2 linked regions of the Homo sapiens genome follow. The protein of the gene in region 1 purifies or fractionates together with the protein of each later gene. This does not show direct contact. Each region holds a gene or a part of one and is shown on either strand. Other genes may lie near its edges.

Region 1 (6,126 bases):
TGCCCACAGGGAGGACCATGGCTGTCCTGGTTTACGCTTGTTGTTCAAGCTTATTTATCAACAGCGTTTCCCCCCATTATCAAAAGTGTCCTGGCTTGGAAGATAAATGACATGGCTTACCAGCTATAGGGACCAGGGGCTGCTGCCCACCCTCTGGTGACAGGAAAAGCCTTGGTTTTTCCAGGGAAAATGAAGAGAACAGGTCAGCCTAGGGCTCTCAGGTGTAGCTTCTCAGCCTATGTCCTCTTGTTTGCCCCATCCAGACTGCTGCCCCCACTGCTGCAGATTGTGTGCAAGGGCCTGGAGGACCCCTCGCAAGTTGTACGCAATGCTGCGCTGTTTGCCCTGGGCCAGTTCTCAGAAAACCTACAGGTGAACCAGGCTGAATGTGGGAGCCACCACTTGAATGTCCCCTTCCCCTCATCTTTCATCTCTTCAAGCATCCCTGCTGCCATCAGCACTCTTGTGTGTGCCCGGCAGGTGAACCTGACTCAGGCCCTGCTTGCTCCCTCCCCCAGCCCCATATCAGCAGCTATTCAAGGGAGGTAATGCCACTGCTCCTCGCCTACTTGAAGTCGGTGCCTCTTGGACACACACACCACCTAGCCAAGGCCTGCTATGCCCTGGAGAATTTTGTGGAGAACCTAGGTAGTGATGGCAGTGGGGAGCTTGGGGAAGGGGGATGAGGCGGCGGCTTTGGCTGAATGTACAGGATGTGCATCTCCCTGCATTGCTGCCTGTGGTAGGGGAAAGGGTGTGATGGTGCCAAAAAAAGGTTTCCGCCTGGAGGGAGGTGGGCGTGCAGGTAGCAGACCTGGGTTGGTTGGTAGAGGAGCATCCTTTCCCACAGGGCCCAAGGTGCAGCCCTACCTTCCGGAGCTTATGGAATGCATGCTGCAGCTTCTGAGGAACCCCAGCAGTCCCCGGGCCAAGGAGCTGGCTGTGAGCGCCCTGGGAGCCATTGGTGAGGAGAGAGGCAGGAGGCAGGGATGTGGGGTTCACCCAAAGGCCCTGTGGCTGGTGGTCCCTGCCCTCTCCAGCTCTGATTCTGTCCTTCCATCCTGCAGCTACGGCTGCCCAGGCCTCGCTGCTGCCCTACTTCCCTGCCATCATGGAGCACCTGCGGGAATTCCTGTTAACAGGCCGTGAGGACCTTCAGCCTGTGCAGATCCAGAGCCTGGGTGAGTGAGAGGTTCCCAGGTGGGGCTCCCAGTGCCAGCAAAGGGCTGGTGCTCACCTGGTGTTGACAGATTGCCCCCACAGGAGCACGGATGTCTTCCTTCTCATCAAAGGGGTGTGCTTCATGCTGTACCAAGGGGTGGGGCGGGATTTCTGAATCCCTCCCAGCCACCACCTTTGGTCCCGTAGCCCACCTCCACCTCCTGGTGCTAATGGAGCCCTTGCCCCCACAGAGACACTGGGGGTGCTGGCACGAGCAGTGGGGGAGCCCATGAGGCCGCTGGCTGAGGAATGCTGCCAGCTGGGTCTGGGCCTCTGCGACCAGGTAGACGACCCTGACTTGCGGCGCTGCACGTGAGTGACCCCTCACCCTGCCTCTGCCCTTGTCCCCTCCCCTCCTGTCTTCCCACTGGACCCACTGGAATCCCCACCCCAGACTCCAGTCGTCTGGTTTGGACCATAGCCAGGTGTTCCCGGGCTCCCCCATCCTGCCTGGTGGTAGCAGGCAGGACCTTACAGCTTCTTCTGCCTGCTTTGACCAGGTACAGCCTATTTGCAGCCTTATCGGGTCTGATGGGTGAGGGCCTGGCGCCCCACTTGGAACAGATCACCACGCTCATGCTGCTGTCACTGCGTTCCACCGAGGGCATTGTGGTGAGCAAAGGGTGGGTGGGCTGGGCCAGGCCTGCCCTGCAATGGGATTTATCTCCTGGGCCCAGCTGAGCCAAAGTCCTTGCCGTGCCTCCGCTCCAGCCTCAGTATGACGGGAGCAGCTCCTTCCTTCTGTTTGACGATGAGAGTGATGGGGAAGAAGAGGAGGAGCTCATGGATGAGGATGTGGAAGAAGAGGATGACTCAGAGATCTCAGGGTGCGGAGGGGTGCTCTTCTGATCAGGAATCTAGACTTTGGCTTTAGACAAGGGCCTAGTGCTGGATCTGCTCCTCTTGGTGCCTGATCACCACTGCCTCCCCTTCTTACTCTAGGTACAGCGTGGAGAATGCCTTCTTCGATGAGAAGGAAGACACCTGTGCTGCCGTGGGGGAGATCTCTGTGAACACCAGGTGAGCATTCGCCCTTCCCTGGCACTGAAAACCCTGCCTGGGGGCCCCTTACCCACGGCTGTGTCTCTCTCTGTAGTGTGGCCTTCCTTCCATACATGGAAAGTGTCTTTGAAGAAGTATTTAAACTGCTGGAGGTGAGCGGGCCGGCGGGTGGAGTGGGTGGGGTTCTCAGGCTGGGGGCCCTGTGTTCACGGTGCACATAGCAGACATATCCCGCCCCTCCTCATCCTGCAGTGCCCTCACCTGAATGTGCGGAAGGCAGCCCATGAGGCTCTGGGTCAGTTTTGCTGTGCACTGCACAAGGCCTGTCAAAGCTGCCCCTCGGAACCCAACACTGCTGGTGAGGAGAGGCTGGGCCAGGCTGGGGGTTCTTGGGGAGGGGCAGGGCCTGACTGGTGCTTCAGCCAATAATGTCCCCAGCTTTGCAGGCTGCCCTGGCCCGAGTCGTGCCATCCTACATGCAGGCAGTGAACAGGGAGCGGGAACGCCAGGTGGTGATGGCCGTGCTGGAGGCCCTGACAGGGGTGCTCCGCAGCTGTGGGACCCTCACACTGAAGCCCCCTGGGCGCCTCGCTGAGCTCTGTGGCGTGCTCAAGGCTGTGCTGCAGAGGAAGGTGAGCAGGGCAGGTGGGCTTCGGGAAGGAGAGGTGCTGGGCCTCGGTTGGGGACTGGCTACAAGTCCACCCCCTACCCCCATGAAAAGAGAAGGGGCGTGAAAGCTCCGCTAAGTTGAGCTACTTCTTGTAGACAGCCTGTCAGGATACTGACGAGGAGGAGGAAGAGGAAGATGATGATCAGGTGAGAGCCAGGGATAAAAACGGGGACCAGGCGGTCCAGGCAGTCTCCACAGGGACAGGGGTGGACAGTGTATTTGGGCTTGGCCTGGGGCAGCCAGGGCCACTAAAAGAGACTGGTAATGGCCAGAGGGATACAACCCTGATCCCACTAAGCCAGTGGGAGTTCAGGGAAGGAGAGCAGTGTGGACTGGGGTGTGCTTGGAGTGATAGGTAGGAGCAGAAGAGCCAGGGGAAGAAGCTGGGTCATGGAAACACCCAGCTTGAGAGGGGCCAGCCCTATCAACCAAGGGCAGCCCCAGGGACCCCTGCAGCTGGTGGCAGAGCGTGGGAGGGAGGTGTACAGTCACTGAGCTGGCCCTGGTGCTCCAGCCCCTGACCTGGCTCCACAGGCTGAATACGACGCCATGTTGCTGGAGCACGCTGGAGAGGCCATCCCTGCCCTGGCAGCCGCGGCTGGGGGAGACTCCTTTGCCCCATTCTTTGCCGGTTTCCTGCCATTATTGGTGTGCAAGACAGTGAGTGTCCATCTTCTGGCTTCAAGCCCTAGTCCCCTCGTGCACCCGGTGCCCACCACAGCCTTTATCCTTGGCCCAGGCTGATCTGTACTCCTTCCTGTTCTCCCCCATCAGAAACAGGGCTGCACAGTGGCAGAGAAGTCCTTTGCAGTGGGGACCTTGGCAGAGACTATTCAGGGCCTGGGTGCTGCCTCAGCCCAGTTTGTGTCTCGGCTGCTCCCTGTGCTGTTGAGCACCGCCCAAGAGGCAGACCCCGAGGTGCGAAGCAATGCCATCTTCGGGATGGGCGTGCTGGCAGAGCATGGGGGCCACCCTGCCCAGGAGTATCCTTGGCTCGCAGGACGGGAGGGACTGGAGGTTGGGGGAGTGTCCCCAGGGCTTGCAGGTGGGCAAGGTCTACCTGAGCGTGTGGCCATTCCTTGACTGTGGACCAGACACTTCCCCAAGCTGCTGGGGCTCCTTTTTCCCCTCCTGGCGCGGGAGCGACATGATCGTGTCCGTGACAACATCTGTGGGGCACTTGCCCGCCTGTTGATGGCCAGTCCCACCAGGAAACCAGAGCCCCAGGTGAGGGAGGGAGACATCAGGCAGGGCTTGGAAGCTGAGGAGGGAGGGTGGTGGAGGGCAGGGCAGGTTGGCCTGAGACATTTGTGTGCCCAGGTGCTGGCTGCCCTACTGCATGCCCTGCCACTGAAGGAGGACTTGGAGGAGTGGGTCACCATTGGGCGCCTCTTCAGCTTCCTGTACCAGAGCAGCCCTGACCAGGTAACCTTGCTGCTGGCAGCCCTCAGAGGGGAACGTGCCGCTCCACTCAGTGATAGGCACTGTCTGCTGATGAGGCTCGGGAGCTCCAGGCTGTCAGTTGCACCTGATGCAAGGTGACAGTTTCAGCTGTTCTTTTGGTACTCCCTGCACCATTTCTTATTTGTCTGCAAGGATTGGCAGCCAGTCCTGTGATGGGACAGGAGGGACTTCCTTTCTCCACGTAGCATTTTTCCTGAGGAAGCTCCATTTCTACCCTTTGGTCTGAGCCAGAAGTTGCAGTTTTCCTAGGCTGGTTTCCTAAACCGGGGCCCTTTCAAACTGTGCTCTGTGGAGCCCAGGGTACCTCTGGGCCACCACACCATACATTTCAATCAGATCAGCTCTGCTCTCTGAAGAGATTTTGCCTGTACCAAGTAGCTAGGTTTGGAGTCATGTCAGAGTGTTTGTGTCACCCTTGTCTTATACCTTTAGAGACTGTTGTGTAGGTGAAGCTCCTGAGTGTCTGGGTTTCTTTAGGTCTTGAGGCTATGACTTTAATCATCTTGTCCCACATCCCCCATTCCCTCCAAAAAAAATCATTAGCACCAAGTTTCATTGGTTCTTCTCATGTTCATAGTTGTCTTGGATGCCTGTGAATCAGTACCAGGTGCAACCACCCCCCTGATAAGAGATTCTGCCACTCCTTGGTCCTGACCACCCTCCTAGACCTGGGGTCTGGGGCTGCTGCCCTGAGTCAGCCACTCTTTCCTCACAGGTTATAGATGTGGCTCCCGAGCTTCTGCGTATCTGCAGCCTCATTCTGGCTGACAACAAGATCCCACCAGGTGAGGGTAGGAGTCATAGGCAGGGGCTTGCGGGAGGCTGGGAGTGGCAGGGCTCAGAGAGCCTGGGGCAGCGAGGCTTTAGGAGCCCCGACCTTTCTCCCTCCCTCTCCACCCAGACACCAAGGCCGCACTGTTGCTGCTCCTGACGTTCCTGGCCAAACAGCACACCGACAGCTTTCAAGCAGCTCTGGGCTCACTGCCTGTTGACAAGGCTCAGGAGCTCCAGGCTGTACTGGGCCTCTCCTAGACTGCAGGCTGCAGCCAGTCCAGAGAGAATAGAGCCTGCCCAGGCCTTAAGACCACCTCTCAGCCCAGTTCAGTTCTGCCTTACCAAAGATTCTGAGACTCATACCCATTTGGAGCCAGCCCCACTTGCTGCCTTACAGGGCTGTCCCTGAGGCTGGATCTGTTACAAATGAGTCATGACATCATACTGTAATAAAAGCAGCTTGTTTTCTGCTTGAACAATAGCTCTGAGAGCAAGAAGGCTGGAAATGCACATTCAGAAATGAGGTAAGCAGGACCCAGTGAGGCACGACGTGGTTTACTAGAAGTGGCCGGTTTCCTGGCAGCTTTGTAAATGGACTCTAACCTCAGTGGAATCTGGGCCCCGGCTGGATCAGGAGGCGACCATATGGCTTTTCTTGTTTCACGTGAAGAATCTGTTGCGCTGAGAGCACTGGTCAAGAGGCGAGGAGAGGGCAGGTCGGGGGAGTCCCTGTACGGGCCTCTGGTCTCTGTGTCCCTGCCCCACATACACACACACACATGCATACACTCACCCAGGAGCAGGTAGAAGACCCGGGCAGCCATCCTGCGGGGGCTGAGAGGTGACACCAGGCTGCTGAAGTCGGGCTCCCTGTTAGCCTGCAGCTCCAGTGCCACTGCCCTATAGGGATCAAGAACCATTAGCAGAGGCTTCAGCCCGGGTCCACCCCATCAAGGTGCCACCTCCCTGGTACCTGTGCACTGCTTCCAGTGAGA
Region 2 (7,028 bases), on another chromosome or scaffold:
AGATCAGAACAGTATTAAATCTATTTATTAGATGTATAGTTAAAAACCTTCCAACAAAGAAAACTCAAGGCACATAAAACTTCACTGGTGAATGCTACTGAACATTTAAAGGAATAATGCAGTCTTATACAAATTCTTCCAGAAGATAGAGAAGAAACAGTTCCCAACTCATTTTATGAGGCCAGGAAACCTTGATACCAAAATCAAGCAAAGACGTATGAAAAAAGAAACCATTACCTGTCATGAACAAAGAGTCTTAACAAAACATTGCCAAGTCAAATCTAGCAAAGCAGAAAAAGGATAATATACTGGCATGCAAGGCTAATTTAACACTTAAAACCTCATCAATGTAATTCACCACATTATCAGAATTAAAGGAGAAAAATCTTATGATTATCTTGATAAAGAAAAAGCATTAGAAGGTAACACTTTCATAATAAAAACTCTCACCAAACTAGGAATAGAAGGAAACTTCCTCAACCTGATAAAGGGCACATATGAAAAACCTACAGCTAACATCATAGTGAATGGTGAAAGGCTCAAAATTTTCCTTCTTCAATTGGGAATAAGGCAAGGATGTCTACTCTATCACTTCCATTTGACATTGTAATAGAGGTTCTGGCCAGTGCAGTAAGGCAAGAAAATGAAACACAAGTGGCTCTCCACATATGCAGGTTCCACATCCACTGATTCAACCAATTACGGATCAACATGAGATTGGCTGAATCCTCAAACACAGAATCTGCAGATACAAAGAGCTGACTGTACTATATGGCTGTTTTTCCCCCCCGAGACACAGTCTTGCTTTGTCGCCCAGGCTGGAGTGCAGTGGCACAATCTCGGCTCACTGCAACCTCCACCTCCTGGGCTCAAGCAATTCTCCTGCCTCAGCCTCCCAAGTAGCTGGGATTACAGGTGTGTGCCATCACGCCCAGCTAATTTTTGTATTTTTAGTAGAGACGGAATTTCACCATGTTGACCAGGCTTGTCTTCTCGAACTCTTGCCTCAGCCTCCCAAAGTGCTGGTATTACAGGCGTGAGCCACCATGCCCGGCTATATGGCTATCTATCTATCAAGACAGGGTCTCACTCTGTCACTCACACTGGAGTGCAGTGGCACAATCACAGCTCACTGCAGCCTAGAACTCTTGGGCTCAGGCAGATCCTCCCACCTCAGCCTCCTGAGTAGCAACTACAGATGCACACCATCATGCCTGGCTAATTCTTGTATTTTTTGTAGAGATGGGGTTCTGCCATGTTGCTCAGGCTGGTCTCAAACTCCTGGGCTCAAGCAATCTGCCTGCCTCAACCTCCCAAAGTGCTAGATTACAGATGTGAGCCACCATGCCCAGCCACACTATGGCATTTTGTATAATGGACCGGATCATCGGCAGATTTTGGTATTCACGGGGGATCGTGGAACCAAATCCCTGAAGATACCAATGGACAACTGTATAAGGCAAAGAAAAACTGTGACTTTCTTCATTAACAGGTAATGTTTGTGTGCAGGAAATCTGAAATAATCTACATCTAAAAAAAAAAATCCTATAGCTGGGTGTGGTGGCTTATGTCTGCAACCCTAGCACTTTGGGAAGCTGAGGCAAGAGGATTGCTTGAGCCCAGGAGTTCAAGACCAGCATGGGCAATATAGTGAGGCCCTGTCCCTAGAAAAAAAAAAAAATTTTGCCAAGCATGGTGGCACGCACCTATAGTCCCAGCTATTCAGGAGGCTGAGGTGGGAGGTTCGCTTGAGCCTGGGAAGTCAAGGCTATAGTGAGCCACAATCACGCCACTCTACTCCAGCCTTGGCAATGGAGTGAGCCACTCTCTCAGAAAAAGCCCAGAATACAAAAAACTACAATAATAAGTGAATTTAGCAAGGTTGCAGAATACAAAACAATTACACAAACTGTGCCATTGTGTGTCCATGCATATGCACATGCACACACATAAAACAAGCAATTGGAAGAGAAAATGTTTAAAGTATATCATTTTTAGGTCAGGCACAGTGGCTCACATCTGTAATAGCACTTTGGGAGGCCTAGGTGGGCAGATCACTCGAACCCAGAAGTTCAAGACCAGTCTGGGTAACAAGGCGAAACCCTGTCTCTACAAAAAATACAAAAATTAGCCAGGCATGGTGGTGTATGCGGAGTCCCAGCTACTCGGGAAGCTGTGGTAAGAGGATCACTTGAGCTCGGAGGCAGAGGTTGCAGTGAGTGGAGATCACGCTACTGCACTCCATCCTCGGTGACAAAGTGAGAACATGTCACACATACAAAAATAAATAAATAAAAAAGTATACCATTTTTAAGAGCATCAAAAATCAAAAGATGTAGATTTACTCAGATAAATTTAACAAAATACATGCAAGACTGAAAACCTGAAACATTTCTAGAATACAGAAATACATCATGTTCATATACTGGAAGGCTCAATGTTATTAAGATAGCAATTCTCCCCACATTCAATTTTAGATTCAATGTAATCTTAAGATTAGTCAGAACTTTTTAAATAGAAATTAACCACCTGATTCCAAAATGTATACAGAAATAAGGTCAAGAATAATCGAAACAATCTTTAAAAAATAAAGATGTGGGACTCACACTACCAGGAATCAATAGAAAGTTACACTAATCCAGACAGTACGATATTGACAGAAAAACAGACAATGAATGAGAAAAGTCCAGATGTAGATCCACACGTGTAAGTTCAATATTTTTTTGTTAAAAACGCACCAAGGCATTCACACAAATTATACTGAAACAAGTGGATATCCACATGGAACAACAAACCTTAATCCCTTTCCTCATATTGGACATGAAAAATAACATGAGATGGATCATGGACATAATTTTAATAAGCTAAAACTAAAAACCTTCCAGAAGAAAACATTAGGAGAGCTTCATGATCTCCTTGGGGTAGACAAAGATATTAGGCATGAACCAGAAAACACTAATAGAAATTTTTAAAATTAATAAACTGGACATGATTAAAACTAAAAACTTCCAGTTATACAAAAAAAGTTGAGAATATGAACAGGCAAACCACAAACTGAGAGAAAAATGTGCACAAAACATGTAATCTGCATAAAGGACTCATCCAGAATATGTAGGTAAATAACACCTACAACTAATAACAAAAAGACAAATAACCTAATTTTAAAATGGGCAAAAGATGTGAATACATGAGTCCAAAAGGAGATAGTCGATAACCACATTAAAAAAACAATCCTTAATAGCATTAGTTATGAGGGAAAAGACAATTAAAACCTATTTAATCTTTACAACCACTATGAAGTACTATTAACAAAGAAATACTACTATAAACCCAGTAGAATGCCTAAAACTTTAAAAACTGACAACATAAAATGTTGGTGAGGATATGGAATAACGAAAATTCTAATACACTGTTGATGTGAGTATAAAAGTACTTTGGAAGTCAGTCTGGCCAAGTATCCCATAAAGTTAAACATACAAATACCCTATTGACCCAGCAAATCCACAGCTAGGAATTTATCCAAAATAAAATCATATGTCCACAAAAAAACTCATACAATAACAGCCAAAAACTAGAAACAACTCAAATATCTATTAACTGGCGAATAATGATGTATCCAACAACAGAACAGTATTCAGCAATAAAAAGGAATGAACTGCCGGGCACGGTGGCTCACGCCTGTAATCCCAGCACTTTGGGAGGCCAAGGCAGGCGATCATGAAGCCAGGAGTTCGAGACCAGCCTGGCCAACATAGTGAAACTCCGTCTCTCCTAAAAATACAAAAGAATTAGCCAGGCGTGGTGGCAGGCGCCTGTAATCCCAGCTACTCCAGAGGCTGAGGCAGGAGAATCGCTTGAACCCAGAAGGTGGAGATCGCATTGAGCCGCAATCATGCCACTGCACTCCAGCCCAAGCAACAGCGTGAGACTCTGTCTCAAACAACAACAACAAAAAAAATGGGGAATGAACTACTGGTACAGACAACATATGATGTACCTCATAAAAATTATGCTTAATGAAACAAGCCAGTCACAAAGCCAGTATATATGGTATAATTCCATTTATATAAAGTGCTAGAACACAGAAAGCTAATTTTGGTCAAAGAAATGAGACTGTAGTCACCTTGCAGGTGGCAGGGACTGAACAGTAAGTAATAAAGTTCTATCTACTAAGCCTGCTCTCATTAATGCTAGAGCAATACTAACAGCAATGTGTTCACCTAGCACCTAGATCTTGGCTTTAGCACCCGAATCTTGGCTTTAAAATATCATTTCCTGTGGCTGGGGGTGGTGGCTCATGCCTGTAATCCCAGCACTTTGGGAGGCCAAGGTGGGCAGATCACCTGAGGTCAGGAGTTCGAGACCAGTCTGGCCAACATGATGAAACCGTCTCTACTAAAAATACAAAAATCAGCTGGGTGTGGTGACGGGTGCCTGTAATCCCAGCTACTTGGGAGGCTGAGGCACCAGAATCACTTAAACCCAGGAGGCAGAGGTTTCAGTGAGCCAAGACCGCGTCATTGCACTCCAGCCTGGGTGACAAGAGTGAGACTCCATCTCAAAATAAAAAACCATTTCCTGGCTGGGTGCAGTAGCTCATGCCTGTAATTCCAGCACTTTGGGAGACCGAGGCAGGTGGATCACTTGGTCAGTTTGAGACAGACTGACCAACATGGCGAAACCCTATCTCTACTAAAAACACAAAAAAATTACCCAGGGCTGGTGGCACATGCCTGTAATCCCAGCTACTACGGAGGCTGAGGCACAAGAATTACTTGAATCTGGGAGGCAGAGGTTGCAGTGAACCAAGATCGCACCACTGCACTCTACCTGGGCGACTGAGTGAGACTCTGTCTCTAAAATAAAATAAAATAACATTTCCTACTAAAAGAAACCAGGGATCCTTGGAGAAATGGCTGATTCCAAGGCTGGGGCAGAGACAACAGATGACAGGATGTTCCAAGGTAATCAAACTATCAAAGAATGAAGTAATTGAAAAATGAGGGGACATGTAAAAAAAATACGCAGATCTCAGCAACCACATCCAGTCACTCCACTCAGCCCTTACCAAGTATTTTCTGCATGTCAAGGAGTTTAAACACTTTACTGATATTTAACTCCATATTTAATCTTTGTAACCACTGTGAAGTACTATTAACAATGAGGAAACTCAGGCATGGAAAGTAATGCAACCAGGAATCATGAGCATATATTATTTTTCACTTGTTCTAAGTGTAAAATTTTAGCAAATTCAGAGCTGTGCCACAATCTAACTTTCAAACATTTCCATAATTCCCAAAAGAAATGTCAGGCCCATTTGTAGTTACTCTGCGCTCCACTGTGCAACCACTACTTTCTGTCTCTATGGATGTGTCTTTTCTGAACATTTCATACAAATGGAATTACACAATATATGGTGTTTTTGTTTAGTTTCTTTCACTTAGCACAATCTTTTTAAGGTTTACTGCAATAGGTATCAGAATTTCATTCCTTCTTATTGTCAAATAGTATTCCGTGGTATAGCTATACTATACTTTATTCATTTACCAGCTGATATATATCTGGGTTTCTTACATTTTTTTGGCTACTGTGAATAACGCAGCTATGAACATTCATGTACAAGTTTTTGCGTGAACATACATTTTCATTTCTCTTGAGTAGACAGATACCTGGCAGTATAACTCCTGGGTCATATAATTCATTTATGTTTAACTTCTTAAGAAACTGTCAAACCAGGAGGGGCGCTGTGGCTCACAGTTATAATCCCAACACTTTGGGAGGCCAAGCCAGGGGACTGCTTGAAGACAAGAGTTCAAGATGAGCCTGGACACATAGACACGTAGGGTCCATCTCTATGAAAAAATTTTTATAAGCCAGGCGTGGTGGCTCATGCCTGTAATCCCAGCACTTTGGGAGGCCAAGGTGGGCAGATCACCAGAGGTTGGGAGTTCAAGACCAGCCTGACCAACATGGAGAAACCGTCTCTACTAAAAATACAAAAAATTAGCCGGGCGTGGTGGCGCATGCCTGTAATCCCAGCTACACGGGAGGCTGAGGCAGGAGAATCACTAGAACCCAGGAGGTGGAGGTTGCAGTGAGCCAGGATCACGCCATTGCACTCCAGCCTGGGCAACAAGAGTGAAACTCCGTCTCAAAAAAAAAATTTTTTATAAAAATTAGCCAGGCTTGGGTGGTGCACACCTGTGGTCTCCTAGCTACCTGGCAGGCTGAGGCAGAAGGACTGCCTGAGCCCAGGGGTTGGAGGCAGCAGTGAGCTATGACCATGCCGTGGCACTACAGCCTGGGTGATAGAGTGAGACCTTCCTTGTCTCTTTAAAAAAGAAAGAAAGAAAAAAAAGGGGTGAGGGGAGGAAATGAAAGAAGAGAAGGAAGGAAAGAAAATAAAAAAGACAGAAAAGAAAATTGCCAAACTGTTTTCCAAAATAGTTATATCACTTTACATTCCCACCAGCAATATACAAGTGTTTTTTTCCACATCCTCACCAATATTTGCTATTGTTTATTATTCTTACAGGCAAAAAAGTAAAAAATATTTTTAAGAGGCTAAAACTATATATACTTATTACTTTTTGCCCCACCGTCTTTCCTTTTTATATAAAATTCTGTCACCTTTCAAACATCTACACCTTCCATGACATAAATCAAAACTGAATAAAATCTGAATATGTTCAATAAATGCAGAAAACCATACATTTGCATAAATAACTGCTCTTACATAAAATTTTACTTCAAATTTAAAATGAAAGATTATATATACACACACAGTATGTACATAACATCACTTAGAAATGGCATACATACCTAATTTTAGTTCAATTGCTGTGTTGGTGTTACATTTGTACTCTGCCAGTTTCTTCTCCACTGCACTCTTATATTCTACCAAAAATTTCTCCATAGCACCAAATCCTAAGAGAAAAGGTTTTTAAAAGGTTTAGTTTGGAAGTGACTTAAATTGTCAAACCTGCAATAGGGTTATTATAAGTGGAATAGGGGTATGATTTAAAACA

What was found. The genes of interacting proteins can lie anywhere in the genome.
Region 2: the proteins of IPO4 (region 1) and HAT1 purify together in Homo sapiens (affinity purification with mass spectrometry; 2 studies listed by BioGRID, with this or other methods). This does not show direct contact.

The regions. Positions count from the first base shown.
Region 1 is NC_000014.9:24,179,705-24,185,830, reverse strand, and holds the end of IPO4 (importin-4), read left to right. Parts: intron 1-263; coding exon 264-372; intron 373-518; coding exon 519-648; intron 649-850; coding exon 851-964; intron 965-1,067; coding exon 1,068-1,181; intron 1,182-1,412; coding exon 1,413-1,533; intron 1,534-1,721; coding exon 1,722-1,833; intron 1,834-1,932; coding exon 1,933-2,048; intron 2,049-2,163; coding exon 2,164-2,241; intron 2,242-2,317; coding exon 2,318-2,375; intron 2,376-2,475; coding exon 2,476-2,581; intron 2,582-2,661; coding exon 2,662-2,855; intron 2,856-2,988; coding exon 2,989-3,039; intron 3,040-3,407; exon of another isoform or gene 3,408-3,427; coding exon 3,428-3,553; intron 3,554-3,667; coding exon 3,668-3,876; intron 3,877-3,987; coding exon 3,988-4,120; intron 4,121-4,213; coding exon 4,214-4,318; intron 4,319-4,907; exon of another isoform or gene 4,908-5,072; coding exon 5,073-5,142; exon of another isoform or gene 5,143-5,258; coding exon 5,259-5,389; 3' UTR 5,390-5,562; downstream 5,563-6,126. Other genes in the region: meiotic recombination protein REC8 homolog, read right to left, coding at 5,563-6,031, 6,105-6,126. UniProt on the Homo sapiens protein: Nuclear transport receptor that mediates nuclear import of proteins, such as histones, RPS3A, TNP2 and VDR. Serves as receptor for nuclear localization signals (NLS) in cargo substrates.
Region 2 is NC_000002.12:171,925,436-171,932,463, reverse strand, and holds part of HAT1 (histone acetyltransferase type B catalytic subunit), read right to left. Parts: intron 6,928-7,028; coding exon 6,823-6,927; intron 1-6,822. UniProt on the Homo sapiens protein: Histone acetyltransferase that plays a role in different biological processes including cell cycle progression, glucose metabolism, histone production or DNA damage repair. Coordinates histone production and acetylation via H4 promoter binding.